4 linked regions of the Homo sapiens genome follow. The protein of the gene in region 1 purifies or fractionates together with the protein of each later gene. This does not show direct contact. Each region holds a gene or a part of one and is shown in the gene's direction. Other genes may lie near its edges.

Region 1 (7,024 bases):
GATCCTCCTGCCTCAGCCTCCCATATAGCTGGGACCACAGGAGTGTGCCATCACACCTGGCTAATTTTATTTTTTTTTTGTAGAGACGGGATCTTGCTGTGTCGCCCAGGCTGGTCTAGAACTCCTTTCTTCAAGTGATCCTCCTGCCTTGGCCTCCCAAAGTGCTAGGATTACAGGCATGAGCCACCACGCCCAGCATGGGGGGATTTTTAATTATTTAAGGAACATTTTAATGATTTAGTTTTGTTTGTTTGTTTTTTTATTTTTATTTTTATTTTTTTAGAGACAGGGTCTTGGTCTGTGACACTGCCACCTAGGCTGGAATGCCTTGGGGCCATCATAGCTCACTGTAACCTTGAACTCCTGGGCTCAACCAGCCCTCCCATCACAGCCTCCCGAGTGTCTAGGACTATAGGCGAAGAGCCTACCACAAGGACTATGAGCCACCACACCTGGCTAACTTCTTAAGTTTTTGTAGAGAAGGGGTCGCATGATGTTGCCCAAGCTGGTCTCAAACTCCTGGCCTCCAGGGATCCTCCTGTCTCGGCCTCTCAAAGTGCTGGTATTACAGGCGTGAGCCACTGTGCTGGCCTTATCTGGTATTTTATGCAATTACATATTTATTGCTCATCCCAACGTTCAATCTGAGGTCGGTCATGGAACCTGTGGAAGAATGGAGAGGTTTGTCACCTCCTGCAGGCCCTGGGTTCACTGAGGTGGCAGTGCAGAGTTAAAGACACAGCAGGAAGCAAGCCGTTGCTAGGTTGCTCTCATCTATGAGAGCCCGTTAGGAGCAGGAACCCTGGACCAGTAGGGACTGAGGGCTCCCAGAGAGAGTGCTGAGGCTCAGAATGTGGAGGAGCTGACCAGTGCGTCTGTGATCAAGCTGCGGTCAGTGTGTGATGGGGCAAGATCAGGCCAGAGAATTGTGGTCCTCAGTGCAGCCACAGCTGGACTTGAGACCTTACCTCATCTGTAACACAAGGCCTGAGTGGATAACTTTACAAAGCCCCTCCAGTTAATACTTTCTGGAATAATGGCACCAATTCATTGTGCAACCTGGTCCTGCCCAACCCCATCCTGTCACCATTCTCGGGACCAGCTTCATAGGCTTTGCCTGGTCCTGGCGTATCAGCCCCCTTTCCCTTCCGGCTTAGCTTAGCTTTGCTTTGCTTGTTTTCTTGGCTCTTTCTTTTCTTTTCTCTTCTCTTCTTTTCTTTCTTTCCTTCCTTGTTCCTTTTTTTTTTTTTTTAAACTGAGTCTTGCTCTGTCGCCAGGCTGGAGTGCAGTGGCGGGATCTTGGCTCAGTGCAACCTCCACCTCCCGGGTTCAAGCGATTCTCCTGCCTCAGCCTCCTGGGTAGCTGGGACTACAGGCGCCCACCAGCACGCCTGGCTAATTTTTTGTATCTTTAGTAGAGGCGGGGTTTCACCATGTTGGCCAGGCTGGTCTTGAACTCCTGACCTCGTGATCCACCCACCTCAGCCTCCCAAAGTGCTGGGATTGCAGGCATGAGCCACCGCCCCGGGCCACCTTCCTTGTTCCTTTCTTTCTTCCTTTCTCCTCCCCTCCCCTCCCCTCTTTTTGACAGGGTCACTCTGTTGCCCAGGCTGGAGTGCAGTAGCATGATCATAGCTCACTGCAGCCTTGACCTCCTGGGCTTAAGTGATCCTCCTGTCTCAGCCTCCCGAGTAGCTGGGACTACAAACGCCCACCACCATGCCTGGCTAATGTTTTTTGTATTTTTTGTAGAGACAAGGTCTCGCCATGTTGCCCAGGCTAGTCCCAACCCTTGGGCTCAAGTGATCCTCCCACCTCGGCCTCCCAAAGTGCTGGGATTACAGGCTTTGGGAGAATACACTTCTGTTGTTTAAGACACCAAGTTTGTGATACTTTGTTGCCGCAGCGCTAAAAGCCAAGAGGCCACTGTGCCTCTTAAGGCCAATCCACAAGACTATTAATAGAGCTGTTTACACTTTTGTGTTCTGAGCGTGGAGCTATGGAGTTGTGGGTCCCGGCGACAGGCTTTCCTGAGAGATGTCAGCCCAGTTGCTGACTAGTCTGTGTGTTGTGCCTGTGTGTGTAGACCCACAACTCCAGCTCGTACCTTGTTTTCTGACCACAGTGGTCGAGGTGCTGTTGTGTCCTAAGAACTGTTACTAACTGGACAAGGCACTCAGACAGATAAACCAGCACAAAGCTCTGCAACTTCAGAGCCAGTGACAAATGCCAGAAGCCCGGGGGCTGGAGGGGTCCTGGGGCCCTCATGCTGCCGAGGGGAGGATGAGTGGGGCAGCCCTTTGCAGGGCTGGCCTGCCCCCACGGGTTGAGCGTAGAGCCTGCGTCCTGATCTGTCTCTGTATGGCCCAGTCTTATTCCCATTTACTGGGCATCTGTGTGGGGCTGGGCTCAGTGTTGAGTACTAGGGTGTGGAGGCAAGAGAGAGCCACGCCCTCAGGATCTACGAGCTGTGGACATGCTGCCCTCCTGTTTGTGGAGCTGTTTGTTTCTCCTACTGTCAGCATTTGACCAACGCAGGAAGGAGGCTCCGAAATCAGATTTTACCTGGGCACGGTGACCCCTGCTGAGGCAGGAGGAGGATTGCTTGAGGCCAGGAGTTCAAGACCAGCCTAGGCAACATAGCCACACCCTGTCTTTATCAAAAAAAAAAAAAACCAGAAGTCAGGTTTTGCTCAAAGTCCTTTATCCCTGAAGAGGGTCTCACTGTCACCCAGGCTAGAGTGCAGTGGCACCGTCACAGCACACTGCAGCCTTGACCTCGAGCCCATGGTCCCAGCTATTTGGGAGGTTGAGACGGGAGGAACACTTGGACCCAGGAGTTCAAGGCTTCGGTGAGCTGTGATTATACCACTGTATTGCAGCCTCGGTGTCAGGGCGAGACCCTGTCTCTAAAATAATAAAATAATAATAATAATAATAATAATAATAATAATAATCAGGGTTCTCGCAGTAATAGGGCTTAGTATTTTGTTCCATTGTGATGAGAACATTCTAGGTTCCCGGTCTCTGTCCCTTCTTACCTCAAGTACTAGACACAGAGGCTGGACCCTTCTCCCGCCACTTCTGGGGGAAGCTTGGGCTCCTCCGTGACTTTTCTGAAACTGTTTCTTCACTTGTGGGATGGACTAGTTGAGCCTGCTTCACCTCCTTCATGTAATGTACTGTTTATTTTGGAGGATTCTTTGAAAACGGAAAAGTACAAATTTAAGGCCAGATATTAAAAAATTGTCAGGTCAGATGTGGTGGCTCGTGCCTATAATCCCAGCACTTTGGGAGGCTGAGGCAGGCGGATCACTCAAGTCCAGGACCAGACTGGGCAAAGTGGTGAAACCTTGTCTCTGCAAAAAATACAGAAATTAGCCAGGTACGGTGGCATGCACTTGTAATCCAACTACTTAGGGTGCTGAGGCAAGAGGATCACTTGAGTCTGGGAGGTGGAGGCTACAGTGAACCATGGTGGCACCACTGTACTCCAGCCTGGGTGACAGGGCGAGACCCTATCTCAAAATAAAATTGTCATTTTAAGAACCTTTTTAAATTCTTTAAGAAGTAATTGGGGTTGGGTGTGTTAATTTCCTAGAGCTGCTGTAACAAAGTAACACAAACTGGGGGGCTTCAAGCAACAGAAATTTAATCTTTCACAGTTCTAGAGGCCAGAAGCCAGAAACCAAGGCATCGGCTCTCTCTCAAGGTTCTAGGGAAGGACCCTTCCTCGCCTCTTCAGCTTCCTGTGGGGGCCACCAATCCTTGGTGTTCCTTGGCCTTTATCCACAAGACAAGACGTCACTCCTATCTTTGTTGTCACGTGGTCGTCTTCTCTCTGTGTGTCTGTCCAGACTTCTGTCTGCTTACAAGGACACCAGTCCCGTCCTAATCCATTTTGTCCCCACCTTAACTAATTACATCTGCAAAGACCCTATCTCTAAGTAAGGTTTCATTCCCAGATACCGGGGAATGGGAGGTTTGGTTGTGGACATCTTTTTGGGGTTACCCACCACAGTGGAGTTTCTACCTATCCCATCAAAAAAGTGCTTGGAATTGCCACTTTGATAATTTGATGATAACTGGGTGTGGTGGCTTGAGCCTGTAGTCCCAGCTATTCAGGAGGCTGAGGTGGGAGGATTTGCTTGAGCCTAGGAGTTTAAGACCAGCTTGGGCTATATATAGCGAAACCCTCATCTCAAAAAAACATTTTGATGATATGAAATCTAAAATTATGAACTTGCTTGTGAAAATAGAATTTGGCAGGGCGTGGTGGCTCACACCTGTCATCCCAGCACTTTGGGAAGCCAAGGCGGGTGGATCTCTTGAGCCCAGGAGTTCAAGACCAGCCTGAGCATCACAGCAAAACCCTGTCTCTACAAAATACAAAAAAGTTAACCAGGCACGGTGGCACGTGCCTGTAGTCCCAGCTACTCAGGTTAGGATGGAGAATCGCTTGGGCCTGGGGAGGTCGAGGCTGCAGTGAGCCATGATTGTGCCACTGCACTCTAGCCTGGGTGACAGTGAGACCCTGCCTCAAAAAAAAAAAAAAAAAAATTGCTGGGCGCAGTGGCTCACGCCTATAATCCCAGTACTTTGGGAGGCCAAGGCTGGCGGATCATCTAAGGTCAGGAATTCGAGATTAGCCTGGCCAACATGGTGAAACCCCGTCTCTACTAAAAATATAAAAATTGGGCCAGGCGTGGTGGCTCACGCCTGTAATCCCAGCACTTTGGGAGGCTGAGGTGGGCGGATGCCGAGGTAGGCGGATCATGAGGTCAGGAGATCGAGACCATCCTGGCTAACATGGTGAAACCCCATCTCTACTAAAAATACAAAAAATTAGCTGGGCGTGGTGGCGTGTGCCTGTAGTCCCAGCTACTCGGAAGGCTGAGGCAGGAGAATGGTGTGAACCTCTGAGGCGGAGCTTGCAGTGAGCTGAGATCGCTCCACTGCACTCGAGCCTGAGCGACAGAGCGAGACTCCGTCTCAAAAAAAAAAAAAATTCTTTTAGCTGGGCTTGGTGGTGGGCTCTATAATCCCAGCTACTGAGGAGGCTGAGGTGGGAGAATCGCTTGAACCTGGGAGGTGGAGGTTGCAGCGAGCCAAGATTGTGCCATTGCACTCCAGCCTGGGCAACAGAGTGAAACTCTGTCTCAAAAAAAAAAAAAATTTGAGATGAAGTTTCAGAACAGAACATTGTAGGCTGAAAAACTCCAGAGTTAATAGTTCAAATGCCCAACTTCTGAGTGAGTAATTGTTAGTTCAAACGCCCAACTTCTGAGTGAGTATGTTTGTGTCTGGTGATGGGGCATCCACGCCAGGTCTTCTTTTGCTTTCTGAACATTTGCTCTTGACACTGCTTCTTTTAATTCAGTAAACTGTGCTTTTAAATCTTCCACTTAGGAAATTGAGAGGCTGACTGAGCGACTAGAAGAAAAAGAGAGGGAGATGCAGCAGCTGCTGAGCCAGCCCCAACACGAGCGAGAGAAGGAAGTCGTCCTGCTACGGAGGAGCATGGCAGAAGGGGAGCGCGCCCGGGCCGCCAGTGACGTCCTGTGCCGCTCCTTGGCCAACGAGACCCATCAGCTGCGGAGGACGCTGACCGCCACCGCCCACATGTGTCAGCATCTGGCCAAGTGTCTGGATGAACGACAGCATGCACAAAGGAATGTGGGGGAGAGAAGTCCTGACCAGGTAGGCCACAGTGTAAGCAGAGTGTGGGGAAGACCTCTGTGTGCTGGGAGCATCGCCTACAGGCCCCTGATCACAGAGGTGGGGGGGCGCCCCAGAACCCACTTCTGTTCTCAGTAACGAGAGTCAGCTGACGGGGCAAAGCTCACTCATCCAAGGGTTTCTTTTAAAATGATGGAACATGCAAAATGTAATAGGAAAGCAGGCAGCCACCTCACTGCCCAGCACCAGGCCTGTGGCCGACCCCGCTCCCAGGTGGGAGATGGCACTTGGCTTTCATCTGCCTCAGCTGAGGATGAGGAGGAGGAGCTGAGCCTGGCAGAGCTGCCTGGAGGAAGTGTAGTCACATCCTCCATCCGAGGAAACTGAAGCAGAGCCAGGTGGTACTGCTGGGGATGGGGAGTGCCTCCAGTTCCACACCCCAAACTCCTGGAAGGACCGTGAGTGCCCGCCTTCTTCAGGCTCAGTGTGTCTGAGTGCATGCAGGCACAGCTGGAACCGCCATCTCCAAAGCTGGCTTTAGGCATGTCCTTGCCAGCAGCACGGCCTCCCGCAAGCTTGGAGACCTGGCTCAGGGCCACAGCCTCCTCATCATCAAAGCAAGGGCCGGGGGCAGCGGCACCAAGTGACAGTGAGGGCCAAAGAAGGGTTCGCTGGACCTCCAGGATAGGCTGGATCTGGGCTGTAGCTCTCTGTGGGGTCTAGTGGGAGAGAGAAGGACCGTGGGAGTTTCAGCATCAGGAGAAACCAGGGGGCTCCTAGGCAGAAAAGTAGGGGAGCAGTGGCCCAAGGCATCTGTGTGCCAGGCACCTTCCATCTTGCTGGTGCTTGTGGTGGTCTGTGTGTGGCAGGCAGGGGAATGGAGGCACTCCGTGCACATCTCACCTAGGCTGAGACCCCATCTCACTCGCACTGCCGGGCACAGGGCCTCTCGCTCGGGTCCTTTCTAGGCAGTTCTCTGAGGCAGCACCAAGGTTCATGCAGAAACACACGCGCTGGGATGTTCTGTGGCAGACAGTACATCCCGCACCCATCAGCAGCTTCACCGAGGCGCCCACTGGGGAGAAGGTTGGTCTGAGAACTGCCCACCTCAGCTGGGTGGATTCCAGGCGGGGAACCTCAGAGAGGACACAGCTGCATTCAGAAACCAGAGGAAAAGTGCCGTCTGGGCGGAGGCAGGGTGTTCTGGTCTGATTTTGAGTCACTGTGTCATTTCCCTCTGGGGATTTGAAAGGAGCCACACACAGTGTTGAGCCTGAGGCGGGGGTGGGGCCAGTGGCAGGGTAGGCCCTCATCACAGTCTCTAAATAAGTGTCACTTCTCAGCC
Region 2 (7,024 bases), on another chromosome or scaffold:
AATGCTGGATCAACTAGTGATAATATCACAACATTACTCTGTCTCAGAAAAAAATGTCACAGGTTCATGACTGAAAGATCACAAAAATTGGTAGCGTTCATCAGAAGTGGTATCTCAATTTTAAAGTGCTTTTCAGTCATTCCATCTGGTTCCCAGAAAGGAAGCTTTGGCATCTTTGATATATGGTGCAAACTCAGCTCTGTTCTTCAGCTGTGAATGGCCATTTGTTATTCTGTGTGGCCACTCGGATGGTCCTTTAAAAATAAACTTCCGAACATTGAAGCAGAGACTTCTAAGGCTTCTCCAGCTCTTCAGCTCTACAAGAGACACTAGAAGAGTGTTATGCGATGATGAGACCTTCAGGTTCTGCAGAGCAGGCTGAGCAGCTCTGGCTATTGAGGACCACCCTGAGGAATAAGGGTGGTCCTCACCCTACCCAGCTGCTCCTCACCCTACCCAGCTGCTCCATGACTGAAAAGTTTGGAAAGATTTTAATTTTTATAACTCAGATCATATAATCATTGATCATCTGCAGTTTAAGCTGGACACAGCCCTGAGGCAATGCAGATAGATGAATGTACTTTGTCCCTTTCCTCAAGGAGTACCAGGTCAGCATTATTGGTAAACAGATCGTCACAACTTGGCAGTTTATGTGCAATATTCAGAGCAAGTTCCTGGTTACAGAAGTATCTGAGTATCTGCATTAGGAGGGTCCTTGTTTTAAAATTTCTTAAAGAAGCCAAATAGGCCAGTCGTGGTGGCTCACGCCTGTGATCACTTTGGGAGTCCCAGGCAGGCTGATTGCTTGAGCTCAGGAGTTTGAGACCAGCCTGGGCAACATGGCAAAACCCTGTCCCTACAAGAAATTTTAAACAAAATTAGCTGGGCATGGTGGCTCACGCCTGTCATCTCAACTACTCAGGAGGCTGAGAGGTGAAAGGATAGTTTGAGCCAGTGATGTTGACACTGCAGTTAGCCAAGATCGTGCCACTGCATTCCAGCCTAGGAAACAGCTAGACCCTGTCTCGAGAGAAAAAAAAAAAAGCCAGCCGGGCGTGGTGGCTCACGCCTGTAATCCCAGCACTTTGGGAGGTCGAGGTGAGTGGATACGAGGTCAGGAGTTCGAGACCAGCCTGGACAATATGGTGAACCCTTGTCTCTACTAAAAATACAAAAAAACTAGCCAAGGGTGGTGGCGCCTGCCTGTAATCCCAGCTACTCGGGAGGCTGAGGCAGGAGAATCGTTTGAACCCAGGAGTCGGAGGTTGCAGTGAGCCGAGATTGTGCCACTGCACTCCATCCTGGGCAGTACAGGGAGACTCCGTCTCAAAAAAAAAAGAAAAGAAAAGAAAAAAAAGCCAAATAATTACCCCATTTAATAATTTTTAGTTATTTAGATATTAGACTTCTTTAAGTGGAACTTGTTTCTGTCTGGTGGCTGGGGAGAGGGACAGCATATGCTAATTGTTTCTCTGTACAGTATTGTTCGTGGATTTACTCTAATCCCACTTTCCTCACCTGCTTGTGATTAAGACGGGTGTCAGGGGTAGGGTGGAGTGAATTGAAGCCACTTGGCCAGAAAAGGGATTTATTTAACTCATGGCAGTGACATCTTAACATTGTTTTCTTCTTTCCGTCATATATTTGTTCAGCAGTAATTTATTAAGCACTGATGTAGGTGCTGGGGCATCTAAGAATTAATTTGGTTGGCCCATTGCCTTCAATAGTTTGGTTCATGTGGAAATACTTGCCATCTGGTGACTAACTATATAACTTACTGCTTTAGGTTATGACTGAGATAACTCCTTAGTTATCTTTTCTGATAATCAGGGAATGAGTGGTAATTTTTTGCTTCTGGTAGTTTTGGAGACTTCATTGAAGGTTTGACTTGATAGTCACTTTATTAAACATTGTCTTTAGCTCTGTGCACTATCTCTTCAAAATTATCTTTTGCATTACCTCTGAGAACTTTGCAACCTGGAATTGCCTTCCTAGTTATTTTATCACATCCTTCAATTTTACTTTTTTAACACTCCTAAATTGTATCACCATCTGAAATTATTTGTGTATGGTACGTCTCCACAATACTATCCGGTTTCCTGAAAGCAGAGACCTTATCTGTTTTCCTCACTGTTGTATCCCCAACATCTAGAACGGCTTGGCAGGAGTGGATGTTGAGTGAAAATGTGTGAGTATAAGGTCACCAGGACTCACTGTGTGACGATGGTAGGCTCGTTTCCTCACCAGCAAAATGGGGATAATATATTGTTGCGACGCATAAAGGAAATGCTATATGTGAGGGCTGGGCACCTAGTCTTGTTGCTTAGTAAGTGTTTCCTTCCCCTTTGCTGTATCTCCCTTTGTTGAATGAACCAGAAAGGCTTTTATGGCCCCGCAGAATGGCTCTGTTCTTTCTCATGGCTACCAGGATCATGAAGCCTGTACAGTGATTGCACAGAGCTTTAGCCTGCACAAGGACAGGAGCAGCACGGAGCCTTTTCTCTTTATTCAAGTCCCTACATTCCTGTGGTCTGATGTCGTCTCTTCATAACTCTCCAGTTTCCTTCAGGCTGTGCCTCTGTGTTGTATCCACGTTTACTTGGCTGTTTTTCATACATTCTGTGCTTTGCATCAGAAGGTTCTCAGCAATTTCAAATGAATTGGTCTTAGAGTTTACAAGGCAAAGGAGAACATTGAATACAGCGTTTTCTCCCTCATTGTGATTATTCTGGGCCCACACATGTAAATTCTGTTTATTTGACTAAATTATTACTAGGTTGTTTTTTTTTTTTTAATATGAGATGGAGTCACTCTGTCGCCCGGGCTGGAGTGCAGTGGCGTGATCTTTGCTCACTGCAACCTCCGCCTCCTGGGTTCAAGCGATGCTTTTGCGTCAGCCTCCCGAGTAGCTGGGATTACAGGCGCCTGCCACTACACCCAGCTAATTTTTTGTATATTTTAGTAGATACAGTGTTTCGGCATGTTGGCCAGGCTGATCTCGAACTCCTGACCTTGTGATTCACCTGCCTCGGCCTCCCAAAGTTCTGGGATTACAGGCATGAGCCACCGTGCACAACAGCCAGTTTTGACTCAATGGGCAAAATGAAAATTTAGGTCCATTGCCCACTTTATACAATGCTGTTGAATTAATATGGGTGACAGAAAAATGGCTTTCATTCATTGACGTTGGAATTTGTTTTTTAAAAAACTTAGAAAATGATCTGTTTACTCATTCATTCTGCAAATAATTACTGAGTGCTTTTCACATGCCAGGTGTTGATAAGTACAAGTACAAGCCTAGCAGTAGTGTGAAGATTTTCTCCAGACACGACTGCTGAAGTTAGAGAATAGATGCAAGGGGCTGGCTGGTGCTCAGGGTGTTGGGGGGTTAAAAAGGGTGGACACCTAGAGAGATAACAGCTTCTGCAAAGACCACGGGGCACTAGTGGACATTGGCATATTTGGGGAACAGCATAGAGAGTACTTTGACATGGTTGGAGTGTCGTGTGCTTAAGGGAAGAAATAATCTGAGAAATGAGAGGTAAGCTGAAAAACTAAGCCTTGACCAGATGCAGAAGAGTGTATAAGCCACGTTTGAAAGTCTTTTTCCTGAGAACAGTTGAAGGGTTTTAAGTGGGAAAGTCACTTGTTCAGATTGGATTTTTGAAAGACGATTCTGGTGTGTTGTGGAAACTGGCTGGGACATTGCACGTCAGACCAGATGATACTGTAGTAATCTCAGGTCATAGTGGCCTGAACTGACAACAGAGTTGGGGACAAATGAATGAGTTCCAGAGGCATTTAGGAAGATTTTGGAGGAGTTGGTCATTGGGTATGAGAAGATGGGGTTGGAGAAATGTAAAATAACACCTGTGTCTCTGCCTGGCTTCTTGTGGGAATGGTGCCACCATTCGTTGAGTTAGGGTGCATTTAGATGAGGCACAGGTGTGGGGTTGAGATTATGAGTTCAGTTTTGGAATCATTGAATCCTGAGATATCCAGGTGAAAGGCTGGAGTAATTACAGGTCCGGTCTGGAGATAAAGACTTAAGAGTTACCAGTAGTTCCAAATTTACCAAATTTTTTTTTGTTCTTTTTGAGACGGAGTCTTGCTCGCCAGGCTGGAGTGCAGTGGCACAATCTTGGCTCACTGAAACCTCTGCCTCCCGGGTTCAAGCGATTCTCCTGTCTCAGCCTCCCGAGTAGCTGGGATTACAGGCATGTGCCACCACGGCCAGCTAATTTTTGTATTTTTAGTAGAGACGAGGTTTCACCATGTTGGCCAAAATGGTCTTGTTCTCTTTACCTTGTGATCCACCCACCTCGGCCTCCCAAAGTGCTGGGATTACAGGTGTGAGCCACCACACCTGGCAAGATTTTCCTTTTTAAGTTGATTTCTTTGGTAAGGTGTCCAAAGATGGCATACCTGTACTATGCAGTGCAAGGTGCTGTTCAGTGCTATTAAGGGAATACTGTACTATTTTATAAAGATAAGGCCATATACTCTCATTACCATAATGATTATTAGAAGTACCAAAGGAGTTTGAGGGAGGAGAGACACTGATTTTAACTGTGTTGATCAGAGAAAGCTTTGTTGAGGACTTTGTATTTGAGTGGAACCCTACAGATTGGGCAGAATGGTGGTGAGTAGACTCATGGCAGGCTGTATTAGCTAGAGTAAGGTGGAGGAGGACTAGGTGTGTCCAGGGAGGATTGAGGGGAGGTTGCACACGTGTACAGGAGCTGAGTGCCTGCTGAGTAGTTTGTATTGCTATGGTAGACGGTGGGGACCTGTTGAAAATTTGATGGCAGTGCAGTGAGAATTTTGATATGGCAGTGGTGCAGAGGAGGACTTGGTGGGGGGGCACTGATTAAAGGAAGAATTGAGAGACAGGCAGGCCAATTAGGGGATAAAAGGACTGTTATGAAAGGTCCTGCTATAAGGCTATGGCCATGCAACTAGGGACCAGGTTTTTAAGGTGAATGATGGGAATCTTCAACCAAAAGGAAGATGACGCATTCCAGGTCAGACTTACTGAATTGGAGAATTTGGTGGGACTTGGCAATGGAACTGGTTAGCAGGCAGCTGGCAGTGTGGATCTGCAGCTTGAGAAAGAGGTCAGAAGTGGAGATAAAGACTTGGAAGGCTTCCACGTGGAAGTGATAGTCGAAGGTAAGGGAGAGGATGAGGTCACCATGGGACTGTAAAGAATAGAAAAAAGAACTGAGAATGAGACCTTGGGGACGGGAAGAGAAAGAGGACCTGGGAAAGGATAAAAAGAACGGTGGCTCTGAAGGACAGTCATTCCTCATCACAGAAGATGAGGGAAGAACTGTTCGATCACAGGTGTGGGCAGCAGTTCAAATGCTGCACAGGAAGAAAAGTATTTGGTTATGGCAACATTCCCGAACCTGGTGTTGGGAGGTGTTCCAGTGTTGGTATGGGAATCATTCGATGGCGCCAGCACCGCCCAGTAGGAACAGAATGCAAGCCACGTGTGTTATTTTAAATTTTCCAGGAGTCACATTAAAAAAGTAAACAGTCCAGGCACGGTGGCTCACACCTGTAATCCCAGCACTTTGGGAGGCCGAGGTGAGCGGATCACAAGGTCAGGAGATCGAGACCATCCTGGCCAACATGGTGAAACCCCGTCTCTACTAAAAATACAAAAATTAGCCGGGCGTGGTGGCGGATGCCTGTAATCCCAACTACTTGGGAGGCTGATGCAGGAGAATTGCTTGAACCTGGGAGGCTGAGGTTGCAGTGAGCCGAGATCACGCCACTGAACTCCAGCCTGGGTGACAGAACAAGACTCCATCTCAAAAAAAAAAAAAAGTTAAAAATAAAAAGAAATAAGTGAAATTAATTTCAGTAATATCGACTTTATTTATGTAAAATATTGTTAATTCAACATATTATTGATTTTAAAATGTTAACGCAACATTTTACGTTTTTTTTGTACCAAGACTTTGAAACCTGGTGTGTATCTTAGGCTTACAACACATTTCAGTTCAAACATAAAATTTTCATTGGAAATACTTGATTTGCTTTTAGATTTCATAAAACTTACTACTTTTTCATGGAAAAGTAGGTTCACATACCCACGTTTTTCCAAACATAAAAAAGTTTTCCAGCAATGGAAATGTCAGTTTTTAAATTTAAATTAATTAAAATACAGTTAAAAATTCAGTTTGAGTGGCACTAGTCTCATTGCAAGTGCACAGTAGCCACGTGCGGCTACTCTGTTGGACAGCACAGGGAGGGTTATGCGAAGTAAAATAGGCTACTGTACAGCGGATGTGCACTCTGAAAATACCCAAAATGGTTTAGCACCATCGCAAAGCATTTCACAGGATTAGTGTTTCTTAGAATACATGTTGGCTTATCCTAGTGGAATTTTTAGAATTTAGAAGGGTCAAATCTCTAATTTTGAATGTGAGGAGACAAACTTTTTATGAAAATACACAGATTCCAAAATTTGAAATAGTGTTTGGGCTACAGTCAGCAGAATGGTACATTGGTAGAAGTTCCTAAACATACCGGTTTGTGCCATGTTTCTGAAATGCTTGGTGCAGAGGCTTACACTTAAAAACAGATCCAGCAGGAGGGGTGGGAGCGTTCCTGTTACTGTTTGTGAGTTTCTTTTGCACTCCCTGGAGTCAGTGAGGTGGTGGCTTCAGGTGGGGGGATGAAGTTAGGATTGCTTTAAGTCAGTGTCCCAGCGTCCCTGTGTGGTGGAGGTGTGAGGTGGGAGAGGGTGCCACCAGGCTAATTATGTTGTGCTTGTCTCTCACTTTTCTTATCTCACTTTTCTCCGTTTAGCCCCGTTTAGTCATTGTGTACTTTTTGCCGACCTGGGCCAATTGAACGCATATTTACTAAATATGGGTGGGTTTTTTCAGTTTATAAAAAGCAGGTTCAAAGATTTTCATTTAATTATCTCATTGATTGAGACTGCTTTGCAGCTGTTAACTAGACCATCTAAGTGATAACCAGTAAAGATAGAAAGGATCTTGAATCTGGC
Region 3 (7,024 bases), on another chromosome or scaffold:
AACTTTGTCAGTAATAAGTATTCCAAGTCCTTCTCTTATTAAGCCAAGGAGCATCCAAAATGGAGACTATGAAAATGATTTTTTAAAAAGATGTTTCAGAGCCTTATGAGATCAGAGAAAAAGATTTGCATCGAGGCAGGGATCATTACTGTCTGGTGCAAGCCAAGCTCTCTTCACCTTTTATTTATTTGAGTCTTTATTTTGCATTTTGTAGCTGCCTTCATATGCTGAGCTGCTTTACAAATCCTGTTATGGGGTAACTTTCCCCACTGTCCTGCCCCCACCTCCACAGCCATAAGATTTGGGTTTTTGCTTTAAATAGAATACAGAGAGATGAAGCCTGTGAATATGGACCTTGAAAAGTTACCCCCTTTGATTACCCTAGTTGACTGTTCCAGGTTTCTCAAGCATTCTTAGGAGTTAAGTCCAGATTGAATATTTAACTCATGCTAAAAGTGAAAGAGAAAACCTAGAGCTCTTATGCCTCCATGTTCTTCATCATATCAGTGCTAGGGCCTGGAATCCCCAACAATCTATTAATTTTAGAGTCAATTCTCTACTTTGTTTCTGCAATCGAATCCTCACCCTCCAATATCCATTTTCTTTCCCTTTAGAGGACTGATTTATCCATCAACTGGGTGTTAAGCTTCCTGTTTCCCCTTCCCAGGTCAAGGGCAGCCCAGGTGCCCAATTTCTCTCTCTCTTCACAAGGCACCACCAGCAATAGAGATGAGAAATTCTGAAGAACAGCCAAGTGGAGGGACCACGGTATTGCAGCGTTTGCTACAAGAGCAGCTTCGCTATGGCAATCCTAGTGAGAATCGCAGCCTGCTTGCCATACACCAGCAAGCCACAGGGAATGGCCCTCCTTTCCCCAGTGGCAGTGGGAACCCGGGCCCTCAGAGTGATGTGTTGAGTCCCCAAGACCACCACCAACAGCTTGTGGCTCATGCTGCTCGACAAGAACCCCAGGGGCAGGAAATCCAGTCAGAAAACCTCATCATGGAGAAGCAGCTGTCTCCTCGAATGCAAAATAATGAAGAACTCCCGACCTATGAAGAAGCCAAGGTCCAGTCCCAGTACTTTCGGGGCCAACAGCATGCCAGTGTTGGAGCTGCCTTCTATGTCACTGGAGTCACCAACCAGAAGATGAGGACTGAGGGACGCCCATCAGTTCAGCGGCTCAATCCTGGAAAGATGCACCAAGATGAGGGACTCAGAGACCTTAAGCAAGGGCATGTCCGTTCCTTGAGTGAACGACTAATGCAGATGTCACTGGCCACCAGTGGAGTTAAGGCCCATCCACCTGTTACCAGTGCTCCCCTCTCCCCACCACAACCCAATGACCTCTACAAGAATCCCACAAGTTCCAGTGAATTCTACAAGGCCCAAGGGCCACTTCCTAACCAGCATAGCCTGAAGGGCATGGAACACCGAGGCCCCCCACCAGAATATCCCTTCAAGGGCATGCCACCCCAATCTGTAGTGTGCAAGCCCCAAGAGCCAGGGCACTTCTATAGTGAGCATCGCCTGAACCAGCCAGGGAGAACAGAGGGGCAACTGATGAGGTATCAGCATCCCCCTGAGTATGGAGCAGCCAGGTAAGAGAGTTCTGTTTCTGTCATTTCCTGACCTCATCCCCAACCAGCTTCTGCTGTGTGTTGGGAATCTTAGGGAAGGAACGGGCAGGTGTTTGATATAACAAACTCTGCAATGCATGACAGGCCTCTGGCTTCGTGAATTGCCTGCCAACCCGAATTTGTATCCTCTTTAGCCATAATTAGCACTGTATTAACAATCCCTTAGCTTTGTAGGTTGAGCATGGCCTCAACTGCCTAGTGGACGAACAGGAGCAAAAGTCTTGTTTTCAGCAGCTATTTGCTGTCCTCTCTCCTAGGATGTTGAAGGGGTCTGTGTTTCTCATAAGCCCTCCTTGAGAGGTAGAAGCAAATTACCTTGCACTTTAATTAGTCTGGAACATCCTATCACTTGCACATATTCCCCTCCATGAAGCTTTCATCATTTATTTTTGCAAACAAATCTGTGTATTTCTTGTCAGTTACCATTTTTCCATAGAATTACCATTATTCTTTTGGACTAAACAAACACCCAGATGTTATGGTGGGGGAGCTATGTATGTATGTAGGTTCAGAATGTTACTTGCCTTATGCTTGCAGTTTATGAAATCTGGACTGTTGTATCTTTTTTTTGTAGAGAATTTATTAGTTGCCTGTCACATTTTTAAACCTCTGAGTTAAATTCCCATCACATCATATAGAAATTTTGGTCAGATGCTAAAATACAGAAGGAAAAATATTACCATTTCTGTCTTATATATTTAGTTGTTCCTATATATACTTCTTAATTATTCAGAGGTCCATTGTCCCACTGCTATATTCACTAGACCTTATGATTCTATGATTCTGTTCATTGTTCCTGTTGTTAGTATTTGGGCCATGTCTCTGATCAGTAGTATTTCCACATATAGGGCAGGAGAAAAGGTTTAAACCATGGGGACCGATGGTGGCATTTAAGTGTGGTATCCTGCCTCATGGCCATGAGTAATGATGGGTGACCATCAGGTTTGAAGTGCTTGGTCCTAGGCTGGCCTTCATTTATATGCGGCTCACAGACTAGGTCTGTGATGTCCTTTGATGTCTACCTCTTTGTCTCCTGTACCCTACTTGCTCATTTTGGAAAAAACCTTCTGGCTTGAAGTTCATTGAGTGACTCAGGAGAGAAGGCAGTCATGGGGTGGAGTAGGGTGAAAGTGAGAGAAGGCACCTAGCATTTCCTGGTATTTCTTTTTTTTCCCCTGCAGGTCCTGTTTTTGTAGCCAGAGGCAATTCACTTTGGACTCCACCTCTAACTTTGCCAGTTTAGGATTTTTTTTTTTTTTTCCCTCTTAACCCAGGTTGATTTCCTAACCCTTTTCAACCTCCTCTGTGCAGCTTTCAAAGGGCAGGAGCCTATGTTCTGATCAGTGTCTTGGAACAGGAAATGGGGTAACCAACAAGGCTACTCAGGTTTAAAAGAGATCAAGAACCAGATTCCCATCTGACCAATGAAACAGAAGACCCAGGGAGGGGTTGGTCTGTTCAAGACTGCCTCACTTAGTGGAAACCCATTCAAGCCAGCAAAATATCAATGAAGCTGGGGGTTTTTATTTTGCTTTTCCCATCAGTATGGAAGAGTCTGTTGATGGGCTGATGTCTGTTGCCTTGTGGGAGGGGAGTGTGTTGGCTGGGGTGTGGAGCAGAAGCCACAGCCCCACTCAGCACACAGCCCGCCTTCCCAGGAAAGCTATTTTCAGAACTCATTCACCAGTATTGTTTGTGATCTGAAATGACTCCCACAGTGTTTGAAGCTAGATGGAAAATTATCTGCCCTTTGATCTGCCTAAATAAATAATGAGGAGCCCAAAGAGGTTTTCTTTTTTTTTCCTTTTCTTCCCATCCTGATTAAACCACCGGAGAAATTTAGCTGCATGTATTTTACAGGAAGATACATATTTTTTATCCTCCCACCTAAGTTATCTGTGGATTTCTCTTTCTTTCTGTCCTCAAAAGCAACAGAGCCCATGATGATCTACCCTTGTTGAGCAGCATTTTAATACACAGTTTTGCTGTAACAGGTTTTTCTCTATGGGAAAGGAGCAGAGTGCTTGATAATGCTTGATGAATAAGCAAACCTAAAATGGCCCTAGTGGGAGGATGCTCCATATGAAATTTGGGTCTGCATCAGGCAAATACTGGCCGTAAAATTGTTGCAGGGCCCTACATGAGGGAGTGGCACCTATTGACAAATTACTGGCAAAAGGAGGTAGTTGAACTGCTTTCCAGAAGTGTACTGCTTTAAGGTGGTGACACATTTTCCCTCCTTTATTTCCTTTAACCAACTAGCTATACAGTTTGTGAGTACCTTTCCAAGTAACTGCTGCTAGCAGCAACCAATTAGAAGACTACATTCTGAGCCCTTAATCCACAAATTACAAGTCAGGATGCAAAGCAAACTCTTTGAACAAATTGCTGTTAAGAAAACATTTGCTTGCTTTTCGAGGTGCAGTGAACTGCTGGAGATTTGCTGTTAAAATGAACAAAATTATAAACAATCCTTTTATTACTTCATCTTTCTTATGCCCTCCTCCCCTTAAAAAATAAATACCTTGAATGCCCAGAACCCCAGATGAGAAACAAGGCAAAGGCTATCTGAATAATTTTAAAATTTCAGAATCTTTGTCTTTCTAAGTGCTGAACCTTTTCTGCATCCTGGGTTTATACATTTATCAACTGCTTTTAAAAATTAAATCATTTCTGTTTATAAAGCAGCCACCTCCTTTCAATTGTTGAAATCATGCCCAGATCTGAGGTTTCTTGAAATCCTTGTTTAGTGGAATCTAAGGGTGACCTAACTCTGTAGTTCAGAGCAGAGCTGGTTGTGCAAGAGAAACCATCAGGAATTTGCAGCCTGCTCCAGGATTCACAGATTCACCGATTCACCATTGCAGAGCCTGGGAAAGGCAGTTTCTGTGGTGAGGATCAATCAAGTTCCAGGCTATTGGGTGGCACCTGCTCTGGTGAGAGTGTGTGTGCAGGATTGCACATGTGTGTGCCAGGAGTGTGGAGTGTGTGTGTGCATGCACATGTGTGCATGTGTGTGTGGCTGGGGAGGGTGAGGGCTCCCAGTCATCGAGGTGGCAGGGTGGAAGGTGCTGTGTCAGCTGGGTAGAGTGGCTTTTACTTTCCCTTTGAGTCCTTACTACTGTCTCTGGGAGGAGTGTACCCCCCACCCTACCCCACTTCCCAGCTTTGGGGAGGATCCTGATTTTAGTCACTGGCCTTTGTCCTGCATGTATGCTATGTCCCCTTTTCTGCAGAGCCCCAGTGGCCCAGGTAGCCTTAGGAAGGAGCAGGATGAGGGGACGGAAGTGGCAGGAGGCAGGTCAGGGCTTGCATGGAATCATGTGATTCTGTTGTCTGCAGGCGGCTTGTTGTTCCTGGTTAACGTGTCAGTGGGGAGCGATTCAGGCTGCTGTGTGCTGGAAGGACCTGGAGAGTGTGCTGCTCACATGGCTGCCACCTTTATTATTACTGTCATTACTTTTACTGTTATTATTTAACTTGGGGTGTATTTTGGCTTCCTCTGACATCCGCCCCCTCCAACTCTCCCTTACCCCGTCATTCCTTAATCTCTTTTTCTCACGGGGAGCTTCACCCCAGTGTTCATTCCGTCCTGCTTTCCCCTGGTGGGTGGATGCTGGAGCCCAGATTGAGTTCTTCACTGAAGGGCTTTCTCTCCCTTTGTGACTGCCCAAGCCATTGCTGGTTTGCAAACCAGCCAGTGACGGGCTGCCTTGGTTTTCCCAACATCACGGTGCACTGAGATCTGCTTCCTTTTCCAGCCTGGGGAATTGAGGGGCAGCTGCCTTGTCTCTGCTTATCTTCATCCTCAGCTTATCTGACCCCAGAGACCTCCTTCTGGAGACCTCATGGTCTCCTCCTTCCCAAGGTCCCTGGAAGGCCATGTGCTGTTGTCCAGGGAATGCAGGGGCCTTTCAGTCTCCAGGCAGGAGGGAGGCCAGTGGCTGAGTTTGTTTGAGAGAGAGGCCTGGGTTGCTTGATGAGGCCCAGGGGAGCTGTGGAGAGAAAGCCCATTTCAGAACTGGGCGTTCAGTCTTTAAAAGAGAATACCTCCCAGGCCTTGGACTGCAAATCCTGGGAACAAAAATGAAGGTTAATATAGTGATTTTTTTCCCTTAAAATTTGAGAGCTGCATTGGAGAACATGAAACTTAAGCCCCTCTTTTCTGCCCACAAAGCAGAAAAGAGACACACAAGCCCCAACAAATCTCAGGACATTATATTTTAACTCTGTAGGCATGTAGAAATTGTAATAGCTCTCATTCAAAGAGAAAAAAGAGCACTTAGTCTTTTACCTGTGAGGAAACTGAAGATCCATAGAATGGAAAATAGGAGCTCTTCACCAAATAAATGTATAAATAACTCCCAGGCTTTTGATTGAATGAGTGCTTTGAGCTCTGGGGAAAAATATTATGTATGGCAGCAACTTTCCAGTTGTACTTATGAGTACCATGTCAATTCTTCTTTGCCCAAATAGTTCGCATGCCCTCTTCAATATTCAGCAATTATTTATAATGACAGATGTATGTGATTGGAAGAATGTGGGTACACCAGAGGCATAGATGGGCCTGAGCGACAGAATCCAGGGTTTGTACAGGTTTGAGGACTCTTGGGGAAGATGTAGGTTATTGGGTATCCATGAGAAAGTGTTTGGAATGATTTTGTAGCTGTAAAAAGCCCTTATAGTTAAGATCTCTTGTAAAGATGGATACATGAACAGTAATGGTAACTGGAGTGTGTGTCTGAGGAATGTGCTTTAGCATCTGGAATGCCAGTTAAAAGTTAATTGCTCCTGGTGATTTGTCCCAGTTCCACCATGAATTTTATGCAATTTATTGCAAAGATTAAATGGATATCCTTTAAGTAACAAGCTAACAAGGTCAGCTTATCTCACTGGGAGGTAGAGAAGTGACTGTAATTCCTATTCCGCCAAAAATGAGAAGACCCCAGTATTTTTGCAATTTATTTGTGACCTCAAGAATAAAATGGGCTCATGCAGATTAAGTAACTTGCACCAAGTTACACAGCTCGTGAGCAGTAGAAGAGGTCTCCAGACTCCCTCTGTTGGGATCCAGATCCCATGCACTTAGCCATCTGTCTTCCCTGGATTGAGAAATATCAACTGTAGAACAAGTGTCCACAGGACATGGGAGCATATGAGGTTAATTGGGCATGAGCTAGGGCATGAACAAGCTTTTTGTCTTCAGTGCACACTGACAGATACTATTCCTGGTAGTGGTGATGGTGGAAGTGATCCATCCACATACTAATTGTTTCCCTTAATGGCTAATAGTCATTAGGTATGAATTATTTATACTTAGGTGTTAGCATTTTGTACCTGGTAATTAGGTACAAAAATGGGAGAGCCACATTAAACAATGTACC
Region 4 (7,258 bases), on another chromosome or scaffold:
CTCAAGCGATTTGCCTGCCTGAGCCTCCCAAAGTCCTGGGATTCCAGGTGTGAGCCACCATGCCCAGCCCCAGCGCTATTTCTTATGAGATCTCGCTGTCACTTTGTGTTGGCCTAAAGCTCCAATTACATGGTGCTCTCCCTCATGGCTACAGGGCTTCTGCAAACCTTTCCGGTCTTCCCTATGTCCAAGCCCACCTCAAACGCCAGCGGCTGGGATCCACACCTGTTAGCCGGGGCTGCAGAACCACATCAGCCAGTAAGGCAACCACCGTGTCCAAGCCTTTGCTATCAGCAGACACAGCATACATGGTGGTGTCTCTGGAAGAAAACACAAGCCCATAATGCCAGGCCCTGAACTCACACTCTGCTTAACAGCCAGGGGACGCTCGGGCTTTGCGTGCCAGGTGGACAATGCCAGGCCCTGAGCTCACACTCTGCTCAACAGCCAGGGGACACTTGGGCTTTGCATGCCAGGGGCACCTACCTTTTGTTGGGGCCCAGCAGACATTTCAGGGACGCTTGGGCTTTGCGTGCCAGGGGACACCTCCTACCCTTCATCGGGGAACAGCAGACACTTTTCCCCTTTCTCTTTTCCTGTCTTACAGTGTGAATGCTTGGTAGGCAGGACTCACAGCTACACACAGCTTGAGTCAAAATGGAGCCACTTCTGATACAGATTTTTGTAACTATACTCTCTCTCAAAAGGTGAAGTGTTTCATCCCAGCCTCCTGTTGACTGAACGAACCCACTGGTGAGTGTGGAAACATGCCCGGCCTTGGCTGGCTTGGGGGACAGCAATGGCTGGCTCGTATGGAGCTTGTCTCACTGTAACATCTGTTCCCGGCATGAGGCACTGCACAGTCAGAAGTGCACAGAGCTGGCCCATGGGACAGGCACGAAATCATGGGGTGCTCTGAGATCAAGTGTGATCAAGGGAGACCATGCAGAGCAGACGCAACAGCCACGAAGAAGAGGGAGCTTGGGAGGCAGGACGCAGTCACCAGTGCCTCTGAAGAGGGGACTTGGCTGGACCTTCACCCTGAAGAGGAGCCATTCTCAGTGACTTTGGCTCTCCACATGGGGAGAATGGCAAGAACAAAAGCCTGAGCTGAGGGCGAGGGGGGCTGGGTCTGAGTCAGGACACCAGCCACCTGGCCAGAGAAAGGAGTTCATCTGGGATGAGTGAGATTCGAGGCAAGAGTCGGAGAATCAAACACACCAGGCAGGAACCTGGCAGGGGCAGCTGGGAGTCAGGGGGTATTAAGAGGCCTTGTTTTAGAACATGAATATGTTACCTCCAAGCTAACTTTAATTCTTAGCATTTAATGTGTCTTTTATGTGTAATTTTTTTAGCATTCAAACTTAAATCAACAATTTTAAAAATCTGTGATCTATATTCACCCATCTCACATTGCCCAGTGCTTTCTGAACAAGCTCCACACCTGGCATGCAAAGACCACTGCACTGTGCTCGAGGCAACACTGCCCCCTCCCTCCACCAAGCAGCCGGCACCTCCCTGGCTCGGTGCCTTTTGCCCCTGCTGTCTCCTGGTCTGGAATGCCTTGTGCCCCGTGTGTCTAGCAAACTCCTTCTGGAACCAGCCCAACCCTGCATTTCCTATGATTCCTTTCCCAACTCCAGACCAAGTCAGCCACTCATCCTCCTGGCTCCTACCGCCTTTGGCTACGGGGTCCATTACGTATGCAAGGCCCTCTGCTCTATCTGGGAACAGGGCCTGCTCTACATCCCTGGCATGCAGCCAACAGCCTGGAGGAACTGACGGGGGTCAACTGAGCTCCTGGGGGCTGTGCTTCTCTGTGTAAGCGCCATCCACCCAAGTCTCCATCCAGGACAGGGCTCCTTCTCCCCGTGAATCTCCACACCTCCCGCTGGGAGGGGCTCAGAGGGAATCTGAGCAACGACAAGAACGTCAGTTCCCAAGGACCCAAAGTCAGTTTGTACACAAAAGCTGGTGTACCTTGATGTCTGGCAGTCACAGATACCCCCATGCTTTTCCAACGTAAGCAGAATTTCATCTTTGCTGTCAAATCGAGCAGTAGACTAGTAAAAATAAATAAGGAAACCTAAATAAGCAATCCAGGCTATCCCTGAAACACAATTTTTTTTTAAAATCTACTTTTGCTTTTAACACACATACAAAAATTATCTTTTAACTTAAAAGTCTTTTATTAACATTAACTTAGCAACTTGATAATTTATTAAAATAACCATTATAGACAAGAAAAATCTCAAACATCCTTCAAAAGTATAGTCTAAAAAATTACAAAACTGGGTACTGACCGAAAATGCCAATTTTTCCAAAAAGTGAGCAATTCCACTAAGGTATTTCGCTTCATATCTCGATCCTGAATTGATAAGAACTAGTAGTAAAAAGAAAATTGACAGGTTACATCAGATATTCAAAATAAGATTTAATCAAGAGAAACATTTTAAGATGTCAATATGACATGATAATCAGATTTAATTACATGAGGGTGATTGTGCTGATGGTTTCACAGGTATATGTGTAGCTCAACATTTATGAAATCGTACACTTTGTTTCCACTCAGGGTACAATTCATAATTGGCATGCTAATTACAACTAACAGTCAACTAAAGCATGTGCATGTTAAAACTGCGGGACCACCCACGACAACACAACAGTACTTACTTCCTACTGTACAAAACTGTCCAAACTTATTCTGAGATGCCACGCGAAGCCCATTATCCAATGTGGTTACTTTGGTTTCAAACTTTTCCTGTCCATCAACTGTAGCAAAAACAGGCTTGGGTACTCCAGGTAAGGGAGAAGAGAGGGGGATGTTGGGATAGGCACCACCACTACTAAACCGTCTGTACGCAGGAGGTCCAAACCTAAAACAGAGAAAGCGGCCCAGTTACAACAGGCTTGAGACAACAAACCTGTGATGACCTGTTAGGTGCGGTTAGTTATGTTTTGTCTGGGTTAAAAGTGAGCATCTGCCTTTCTACAGGACTTATTTCTACAGACTTTGGAAGACAAAGCAGAGGCTGACAACAAAGGCTCAGCCACGGGACCTGGAGCAAGCTGGTTCCGTCCTTTGGGTCTTAGTTGCTATCTCTGTAAAAACAGGGCTTATTAACAGTAACTCACTCTAAGTGCAGTTTGTACACATAAAGCACTTAACAGCTCTGCCCTCCAACAGCACCACCGAAGTCTTGGATAAAAGCCATATCCCTTATTAACCTGGTCCGAAGGCGGGGTGTGACTTGGCCTCTGTCTCCCTCTCCAAACTCATCTCTTGAACCCCCACACTCCCATAGGTCCTGGTCACACTGATTCTTGTCAATTCCTGGAACACATTTGACTCATCAACCCCAAAGCTTCTTCACCGTTCCAGGGCTTGCCCTTTGCCCATGCCTACCCCTTCTTTCATTCTTCAGCTCTTCCCTTAAATGTCACCCTGATGGAGGACTATCCCTCACCAGTCTAGTCTTTCCTGCTATTTTCTATCATGAAAGGCTGCTTGTTTACTCCAAAGCATTTACGCGACTGCCGATATTTTGTTTACGCTCCAGCCTGTATCCATCTCCTGGAGGCAGCACCTCCGCACCCCTGAAACGGCGCTCGTTGTGTGGGGAGGGGCGACGCCTGTGCTGTCGGAACAAAGTTCCAGCGTGGGGAAAGGCAGGCCCGGTCACTTGGGTGGGAGGAGCGGTGGGTACGGAAAGGGTTCTTAAACGTCAGAGATCAACGGACAGACCGCAGCAACCGAGAGCCTGGACCCTGGTGTCAGAACCCTGCGGGTCTAACAGAGCTGGGCCCCCACCGGCTCAGCCTCCTGAAGGAGCACGCGGTAGGTGAAGCGCGGGGGCAAATATGAGGCATGGCCTCGGAGAAGGCCCGTCGACCCGGGAAGTGAGGGGGGGAGAGGACCCAGCAGCCGGGGAGAGGAGAGACAGATGGGACTGCGTCCCCGGGCTCGAGGCGCAAAGCAAGGCAGGGCCCCCGTCGCCTCGGGGACACCAGTGTCCCGAAGTGCGAGCCCGTCCCACGGGCGCCATGTCACCTGTAGAAACCGAAGACGGAGCGTCCAGAAAGACTCGAGCCGCCCCCGCCCCAGGCCGAAGCCTGGTTCGCCTTTGGCTCACCTCAGCCGCGAACAGCCCCAAGAACCCGAGCCCCGCAGCAACCGCGTCGCCGCCAGCACCACAGCCGCCATCTTGCGTCTCCGCCCCGCTTCAGTCGTCACTTCCGCTTCCGCCCACGGCTTCCCCTCCCCCTCGCCGACGGCCCAAGGCGTTCAGGCACGCGCTTTCGGTGCTCGGAGCGGAAGCAGCGGCGAGAGGCTCGGAGGCGCGGGGGCGGCCGAGCGGCGGGCGACGGGGGCGGGCGACGGGGGCGGGCGACGCGGGCCGCGGCACGGGCGGAGCCGGGGCCATGGAGCCGCCGCTGCCGGGCTAGGCAGGTCGTGCCCCGCCGGGCCGGCGGCGATGTCGGGCTACCAGCGCCGCCCGGGCGCCACCCCGCTGTCCCGAGCCCGGAGCCTCGCCATTCCCGACGGTGAGCGGGGCAGGGGCCGAGTCCAGCGGTCCAGGTGGGCGGCGGCCGCCCCGGCACGCAGTAAAGTCGCTGTTGTCGTTGCTTCCAGCTCCAGCGTTCTATGAGCGCCGGTCTTGTCTCCCCCAGCTAAATTGTGAGCGCCCCCATGGCAGGGACCTGGACTCCCCCTTCTTCGGCATTCGGCCGGCCTTTATGTGCTATGTGCCCAGCCCGGTGCTGGCTTCCGTGGGAGACACAGGTGAGAGACGAGGGCGCCGGCCCCGGGGACGCTTCCAGTTCCCGCGCCACGTGTGGCACCTCCGCTGCAGCACGAGCTCGTCCATTGACCCATCAATGTGCAGAGCGCTCACTGCGTGCCAGGCACTCGGAATTCAAAGGCGGAGTCCCCTGCTAGGAGCTCACAGTCTGGTTGCGGGGAGACCTCCCCCAAGACAGACAGTTCCAGTACAGGATGGTTAGTGCCCGGGGAGCACAGGAGCCCGCCCGCTTTCCTCGTGGGGCTGGAGTCGGGGTGCCTTCACCTAGTGGGCAGTGATTGGAAACCGAGCTGGAGCATTCCATCTGCCTCCACAGCCGGGCAGTGGCCAGATCTGGTTCGTCCTCGTTCTACCCAAGCAGAAGTGCTGCTGGGTGCCCGGGGTGTGCAGGAGTGTTTGTGTGGTTATGCCAGGATCTGAGGACATTCGGGGGTTGTCACAAGACAAGAGGACGCGCTTGCCCCGGCTGGGCTTCAAAATCTGCTGAGGAGCCGCTTTCAGACCACGGACACCAGGGCCAGTCTGCAAGTCAGGCCATCTCCAGGGTCACAAGTCTGGGAGCTTGTGTTTTTTTTAAAGTTTTCTCGGCTGACCGGGCGCAGTGGCTTACGCCTGTAATCCCAGCACTTTGGGAGGCCGAGGCAGGCGGATCATGAGGTCAGGAGATTGAGACCATCCTGGCTAACAGGGTGAAAACCCGTCTCTACAAAAAATACAAAAAAATTAGCCGGGCGTGGTGGCAGGTGCCTGTAGTCCCAGCTACTCGGGAGGATGAGGCAGGAGAATGGCGTGAACCCAGGAGGCGGAGCTTGCAGGGAGCCGAGATCGCACCACTGCACTCCAGCTTGGGCGACAGAGCAAGACTCCGTCTCAAAAAAAAAAAAAAAGTTCTCTAGACTGTGAGAACCACTGCAGTGGAGACTCCATGTGCAAAAGAAAAAAACCAAATGTGAGGTCATAAAGACTTCCTGCCAGCATGGTGGGTGACATTGTTTCTTTGCAGATTTTGGCTATGGAAAGGGGAAATGTTCTAAGCAGAGCCCGTCAGGAGCCCACGGGACACATTTTGGAGGTAGAGTAGTTCAGCAACCTTTTCTTCTTGTCTCCATCCAACACAGTGCCAGGCACGTGTCTGGTGGGACTGTCAATGTGACTGGCTATGTGGTGTAGCTGGAGCCCAAAAGAGCAGGTGGGGGTGGGATTTCAAGGGTTCAGTCTTGATCCTAGAGTAGCAGCGAGGTGACATCAGGGAGCGGGGAAGCCCCACCTGGGGGGCTGGGGCCACAGGAGCCAGCTTTACATGGGGCTCACAGCTGGGAGGGTCGAGTGTGGCTGCTTAAGTCCCCGGAGGGTGGGAAGGCGGTGGCAAGAGGGAGAAGGGAAAAGTGGGCGTTATTTAGGCTACCTAGGTAGGAAAGTCGGGAAGAGGGTCAGGGGGCACTGGGTCCCCAGCGTTGCAGCACCTGAGGAGCTGGTTGTTGTTGTTGTTTTTTGAGACAGAGTCTCGCTCTGTCGCCCAGGCTGGAGTACAGTGGCACGATCTCGGCTCACTGCAAGCTCCACCTCCCAGGTTCACGCCATTCTCCTGCCTCAGCCTCCCGAGTAGCTGGGACTACAGGCGCTCACCACCACGCCTGGCTAATTTTTTGTATTTTTAGTAGAGATGAGGTTTCACCGTGTTAGCCAGGATGGTCTCAGTCTCCTGACCTCGTGATCCGCCCGCCTTGACCTCCCACAGTGCTGGGGTACAGGCGTGAGCCACCACACCTGGCCACCTGAGGAGCTTTGAGAGCTCCTAGCACAGGTTGACCTCACACCAGGGAGCTGGGTGTGTGCAGTGGAGTGGCTTGGGTCGTTTTAAAGCTCCCCAGGGGAGCTTTAGTGAGCAGCACAGTGTGGGAGCAGGGGCCGAGGGGTGGAAGGAGAAGATTGCAAATGCAGACGCACGTCTGTGTCACTGCCCACCTTCAGCCACCTTCACACTTCCTAGTGCTGCCTGAGTCATGGTAGAATGACAAGCGTGGCTGCCCGATCTCACATGTGGCCATGCTCTGGAAAGACAGGTGAACAGGAAGGTTCCCTTTCAACGCTCTTCAGTAGACTTTATGCATTTGTGATGTCTGTTATTTCAGATGACAGATTTGAAGATCTGGAAGAGGCAAATCCATTCTCTTTTAGAGAGTTTCTGAAGACCAAGAACCTCGGCCTCTCGAAAGAGGATCCGGCCAGCAGAATTTATGCAAAGGTAAATCCACGGCACTGTGGGCGATGGCTCTGTGGGACGTTTCTGTTCCGGCCTCTGCAGCCTCCTTTGGAGGAATCGTGCATGAGTGTGGCAGAGCAGGCAGGCGTCAGTGCTGGGGAGCAGCTCTGGGCTCAGAAGCTGCTGGGCTCCTTCCGGTAGAGAGATTGGGCCTTTCTTCTTGTTGCGAGGCAGAACACAGAAAGGAAGATGC

Evidence for each region.
Region 2: the proteins of TNIP2 (region 1) and TNRC6B purify together in Homo sapiens (affinity purification with mass spectrometry, with the first as the bait; 2 studies listed by BioGRID). This does not show direct contact.
Region 3: the proteins of TNIP2 (region 1) and AMOT purify together in Homo sapiens (affinity purification with mass spectrometry, with the first as the bait; 2 studies listed by BioGRID). This does not show direct contact.
Region 4: the proteins of TNIP2 (region 1) and ENTR1 purify together in Homo sapiens (affinity purification with mass spectrometry, with the first as the bait; 2 studies listed by BioGRID). This does not show direct contact.

Annotation. Positions count from the first base shown.
Region 1 is NC_000004.12:2,746,331-2,753,354, reverse strand, and holds part of TNIP2 (TNFAIP3-interacting protein 2), read left to right. Parts: intron 1-5,409; coding exon 5,410-5,700; intron 5,701-7,024. UniProt on the Homo sapiens protein: Inhibits NF-kappa-B activation by blocking the interaction of RIPK1 with its downstream effector NEMO/IKBKG.
Region 2 is NC_000022.11:40,180,917-40,187,940, forward strand, and holds part of TNRC6B (trinucleotide repeat-containing gene 6B protein), read left to right. Parts: intron 1-7,024.
Region 3 is NC_000023.11:112,816,832-112,823,855, reverse strand, and holds part of AMOT (angiomotin), read left to right. Parts: intron 1-667; 5' UTR 668-729; coding exon 730-1,601; intron 1,602-4,417; exon of another isoform or gene 4,418-4,531; intron 4,532-7,024.
Region 4 is NC_000009.12:136,407,615-136,414,872, reverse strand, and holds the start of ENTR1 (endosome-associated-trafficking regulator 1), read left to right. Parts: upstream 1-4,258; 5' UTR 4,259-4,475; coding exon 4,476-4,545; intron 4,546-4,633; coding exon 4,634-4,783; coding exon of another isoform or gene 4,784-4,999; intron 5,000-5,805; coding exon 5,806-5,874; intron 5,875-6,934; coding exon 6,935-7,047; intron 7,048-7,258. Other genes in the region: PMPCA (mitochondrial-processing peptidase subunit alpha), read right to left, coding at 226-320, 1,981-2,063, 2,304-2,383, 2,674-2,876, 4,134-4,204. UniProt on the Homo sapiens protein: Endosome-associated protein that plays a role in membrane receptor sorting, cytokinesis and ciliogenesis. Involved in the endosome-to-plasma membrane trafficking and recycling of SNX27-retromer-dependent cargo proteins, such as GLUT1.